Linked DNA regions of Homo sapiens. The protein of the gene in region 1 interacts with the protein of each later gene in a pairwise test. Each region holds a gene or a part of one and is shown in the gene's direction. Other genes may lie near its edges.

Region 1 (2,227 bases):
TGCCTGTATTCCCAGCTACTCAGGAAGTTGAGGCGGAAGAATCGCTTGAACCCAGGAGGCCGTGGTTGCATGAGCTGCCTCCGTGCCACTGCACTCCGGACTGGGCAACAGAGTGAGACTCCATCTCAAAAATAAATAAATAAATAAATTAAATTAAATTAAATTAAAATAAACATAAATTTAAAAAATCAATCTACACTGTCCTTCAGACTCATTAGATCTGGAGACAAAGACCGTATGCACCACAAAAATTTCTCCAAGTGGGGTCTGTGCGCCAGTGGCATAAGCATCACTAAAGAGCTTGTTAGGGGTGCAGAATCTCAGGCTCCACTCAGACCTACTGAATCAGAGTCTGCATTTTAACACCATCTCTGAGTGGTAAGCACATGAAAATCTGAGAAGTGCTGCTACTAGGGTTTGCTTACATTTGTTCATCTTCAGAGGTTCCTAAAGCCTGGCCTCTTGTCTGAGATTTCCAGCTGAAAGCATTTCCTTGCTCCTCTTCTCATCTCTAATGAATATTTACCTTTACTACTAACACTCCAAGTTTTGCAATTTTTAAACTCTTATTATCTTTTGTTTTTCTTTCAGTATGAATGACCCATATTAAATCGCCCTTGGTGAAAGAAAATTCTTGGAATACTAAAAATCATGAGATCCTTTAAATCCTTCCATGAAACGTTTTGTGTGGTGGCACCTCCTACGTCAAACATGAAGTGTGTTTCCTTCAGTGCATCTGGGAAGATTTCTACCTGACCAACAGTTCCTTCAGCTTCCATTTCGCCCCTCATTTATCCCTCAACCCCCAGCCCACAGGTGTTTATACAGCTCAGCTTTTTGTCTTTTCTGAGGAGAAACAAATAAGACCATAAAGGGAAAGGATTCATGTGGAATATAAAGATGGCTGACTTTGCTCTTTCTTGACTCTTGTTTTCAGTTTCAATTCAGTGCTGTACTTGATGACAGACACTTCTAAATGAAGTGCAAATTTGATACATATGTGAATATGGACTCAGTTTTCTTGCAGATCAAATTTCACGTCGTCTTCTGTATACTGTGGAGGTACACTCTTATAGAAAGTTCAAAAAGTCTACGCTCTCCTTTCTTTCTAACTCCAGTGAAGTAATGGGGTCCTGCTCAAGTTGAAAGAGTCCTATTTGCACTGTAGCCTCGCCGTCTGTGAATTGGACCATCCTATTTAACTGGCTTCAGCCTCCCCACCTTCTTCAGCCACCTCTCTTTTTCAGTTGGCTGACTTCCACACCTAGCATCTCATGAGTGCCAAGCAAAAGGAGAGAAGAGAGAAATAGCCTGCGCTGTTTTTTAGTTTGGGGGTTTTGCTGTTTCCTTTTATGAGACCCATTCCTATTTCTTATAGTCAATGTTTCTTTTATCACGATATTATTAGTAAGAAAACATCACTGAAATGCTAGCTGCAAGTGACATCTCTTTGATGTCATATGGAAGAGTTAAAACAGGTGGAGAAATTCCTTGATTCACAATGAAATGCTCTCCTTTCCCCTGCCCCCAGACCTTTTATCCACTTACCTAGATTCTACATATTCTTTAAATTTCATCTCAGGCCTCCCTCAACCCCACCACTTCTTTTATAACTAGTCCTTTACTAATCCAACCCATGATGAGCTCCTCTTCCTGGCTTCTTACTGAAAGGTTACCCTGTAACATGCAATTTTGCATTTGAATAAAGCCTGCTTTTTAAGTGTTAACTAGTTTGCCTAGTTTGTTATTTTGAAATTATCATATGTTTTGTTTTCTCCCCAGTGAGATTACATGCTCCTTCAGGGCAGAGTTTGTGTCAGATCCCTGGAGTATCTAGTGCATTACTTGACACTCAATAAATGAATGTTCAAATAAATCAGAAAGAGCATACAGTGCACTGCTGATATAAGTTTCAGCAAACCCTCTTTCTCTATGGCATCTGATGACCTGGGCAGATATCACCTAATGTCAACAGCTGAATTCTTATGAGAGAATAGAGCCCTTTCAGAAGCTAGCTGGAAATACCTCCTTGTCCCATGGCCAATATAGATTTCATACAAATTTGCACACATTATGAGAATAATTTTTTGGTAATGATTACACTTTTCTTTCTCAAAGACATCTCAGATTCTGTATTATAGCAAAAGCTGTTGCAAAAGATTCTCCCTATAGTACACTGTAAATCTTGGATGTGCAAATCACATTCATGTGGTTTAGGGTACATCCC
Region 2 (3,183 bases), about 140 Mb from region 1:
CGGGAAGAGGCCAGTTGTTGCAGGAGTAGCTGTCCCTAGGGGCAGAACCCAAGTCTGAAATTGGTCTCAGTTAGAGACAATGGGTGTCTCTTTCGGGGTCTTTGTTCAGAGGCCTCAGTTTCCCCATCTGTGACATGATGGAGTGAACTGACAGTGACCTCCCTAATGCCCTCCTGCTCTGAGATTTGACACTGTGGCATTGTTGTGCCCAGGCTCAGCCTGGCATTGGCGCTGGGCCCTATCTCTCATGGCTGTCTGAACCAAGGCCACGTGGGTTGGACTTCTCACATGGCCAAAGAGATCACAAGGTTTAGGGGCTTGAGATTTTTGCCCTACAAGTTGGCTAGTCCTAATAGGTGACCTCCATCTGCGACCTCAGTGAGCCCTTGGCTTTGTCTCCACTTCCATAGAATGGGGTTGACCCTTCACCAGTCTGGCCATGGGCACAGCCACGGCACCACCAACCAGCAGGAGGAGAACCCCAGCGTCCGAGCTGCCTTCATCCATGTGATCGGCGACTTTATGCAGAGCATGGGTGTCCTAGTGGCAGCCTATATTTTATACTTCAAGGTCAGAGCTGGGACACAGGGTGGTGGGGGTGGCAGGGGAGTGTAGACCACCTGAGTATACTCTCTACCGGGGTTTCTTTTCAGATTCTAGCTCCCTCCCAGTTCTAGGGAAAAGGGTGGGGAGAGGAAAGGAACATTTATCCAATACCTACCAAGTGTCAGCACTTCTGATCCTCACAACAACCTGAAGGGTAGGTGGTAGTGTTTTCTGTAGCTCAGAAAGGTTCAGTGACTTGCACAGTGTCACACAGCCGGTAAAGCATAGAGCCAGATTCAAGCCTACGACTGTGTGTTGTCAAACCCTGGGCAATGCCCATCACATAGAGGCAGGGAGCTGTAGTGGAAAGAGGCAGGCATTTGCTCTGAAGCTTGGCTCTCCTCCTTGCTAGCCATGTGACATTGGATGAGTTTGCTTGCTCTAATGGAGCCTCAATTTCCCCATCTGTCAAATGGGGACGGATGGCGGATCAGATGGTATCTAAGATGCCTTTTTGCTCTGTCCATGTCTCAGCTCCTTGAGAAGGAGGGGTGGGAAGGGACTGCCTTATTCTGAACTGTGGTCTGTCCTTTCTGCTCTTGCAGATGTGAAATAAAGAGCAGAAAACTGGGAGGCAGGGCCAGGGCGAGGCTCATGCCCACCCAGCAGAGAGAGCACCTCTCCCCAGCAGTGCTGGGTGGGAGGGGAGAAGGGAAGCTGAGGTGTTAGATGGTGAACTCCAGGTCTGCCTTCCTGTCTTCCTGCAGCCAGAATACAAGTATGTAGACCCCATCTGCACCTTCGTCTTCTCCATCCTGGTCCTGGGGACAACCTTGACCATCCTGAGAGATGTGATCCTGGTGTTGATGGAAGGTAACCTGGGCTTTGTGGCTCCCTTTTTGCTCTTGGCTCTCAAGCGCTAATCAGCTCAAATAGGGTATGTGTGTGTCTGGGGCATCCTAGCACATGGGCGGGGAGCCAGGATCCGGAGCCCCGGCATAGGCTGGAAAACCTCCTGGGGCCCCTGGGCTGATCTTGACATAGAGCCTGGGCTTTCAGGTGTGGCAGTTCCTGGAACCGTCCCCCAGCCCGAGTCTTCCCTTCCCCCTACCCCTAAGGGTGCCTCCTCTGCCTAGTCAGGTGGCTTCTGGGGGACATCTGTAGCATCTGGAGCTCTCCAGCCCTCCCCTATACACTTCCCCAGGCTCTGGCTGCCTTCTCTCAGGAAGAGAGAGGGGGTGAGGATTATGCTTCTCATTGCACAGAGGGGCAGACTGAGGCTCAGAGAAGGACAGTCAGCCTTGGACAAAGCTACTGAATCCACTGCAGCGCAGGCCTTTCCTACATCTCAGGGACCAAACAATGCCACACCCTGTGGGGACATGGCTGTGCTTTGTGGGGTTGGAGAACGGTCAGTGGTGGAGAATGATCTGGTCTGCCCTGAATTACCTTTTTTTTTTCTTTTTTCTTTTTTTTGAAACAGGGTCTTGCTCTGTCATCCAAGCTAGAGTGCAGTGGTGCCACCAAGGCTCACCGCAGCCTTGACCTCCTAGGCTCAAGTAATCCTCCTGCCTCAGCCTCCCAAGTAGCTGGGACCACAGGCGCATGCCACCATGTCTGGCTAACTTTTAAATGTTTGTAGAGATGGGGGGGGGGTCTCACTATGTTGCCCTGGCTGGTCTCGAACTTTTGGGCTCAAGCAATCATCTCACTTCGGCCTCTCAAAGTGCTGGAGTTACAGATGTGAGCCACCACACCTGGCCCTGCACCTTGGCTTTCTTATGCTCTAGGCCTGGGGTCTTGGGCCAGGGTCATAGGCCTCTGCGTGGTCAGGGTCAGTCTGGAATGGAGTAGGATGCTGGCCTGGGCTTAGCAGTATTTGGCTGCAGGTCAGAGCTTTTTCTCCAAGAATATGCTAACCCAGATGAAAGCGATAATGATGAAGATGATGATCGTGCCCTGGGTGGGTCCAAGGATTCTCAGGATCTGTTCTTTCCTTCTTTCCATTCAAAAATATATTTATTGGCCAGGTGCGGTGGCTCACACCTGTAATCCCAGCACTGTGGGAGGCCGAGGCAGGCAGATTACCTGAGGTCAGGAGTTCAAGACCAGCCTGGCTAACACAGTGAAACCCTGTCTCTACCAAAAATACAAAAATTAGCCGGGCGTGGTGGCATGCGCCTGTAGTCCCAGCTACTCAGGAGGCTGAGGCAGGATAATTGCTTGAACCAGGGAGGCAGAGGTTGCAGTGAGCCAAGATCACGCCACTGCACTCCAGCCTGGGTGACAGAGCAAGATTCCGTCTCAAAAAAAACCAAAAAATATATTTATTGAGCACCTACTATGGAGTAGGTGCTGTTTTAGGCACCAAGGATACTGTGGTAATCAAAGGAGACTGTCCTGCCCTCATGGAGTGTCCATTTTAGAGGGAGAAACTGACAATAAGTACATTCATAAATAATTTCAGTGTTAAGAGTGGAGAGGAAATACAACAGAGTGATAGGGCAGAGACCTTGGGAGGTGAAGGCAGCCTCAGACCTGCAGGCCAAAGAGGTCTTCTTTGAGGGGATGACACCTGAGGATCAGGAGCCAGCCCTGCACCAATGGGCAGGCGTGGGAGGGGTAGTTTCCTTTAGT

Evidence for each region.
Region 2: the proteins of SELL (region 1) and SLC30A2 interact in binary tests that used the Homo sapiens proteins (3 or more experiments, as listed by UniProt).

Annotation. Positions count from the first base shown.
Region 1 is NC_000001.11:169,690,167-169,692,393, reverse strand, and holds the end of SELL (L-selectin precursor), read left to right. Parts: intron 1-591; coding exon 592-610; 3' UTR 611-1,727; downstream 1,728-2,227. UniProt on the Homo sapiens protein: Calcium-dependent lectin that mediates cell adhesion by binding to glycoproteins on neighboring cells. Mediates the adherence of lymphocytes to endothelial cells of high endothelial venules in peripheral lymph nodes.
Region 2 is NC_000001.11:26,039,936-26,043,118, reverse strand, and holds part of SLC30A2 (proton-coupled zinc antiporter SLC30A2), read left to right. Parts: intron 1-410; coding exon 411-570; intron 571-1,313; coding exon 1,314-1,419; intron 1,420-3,183.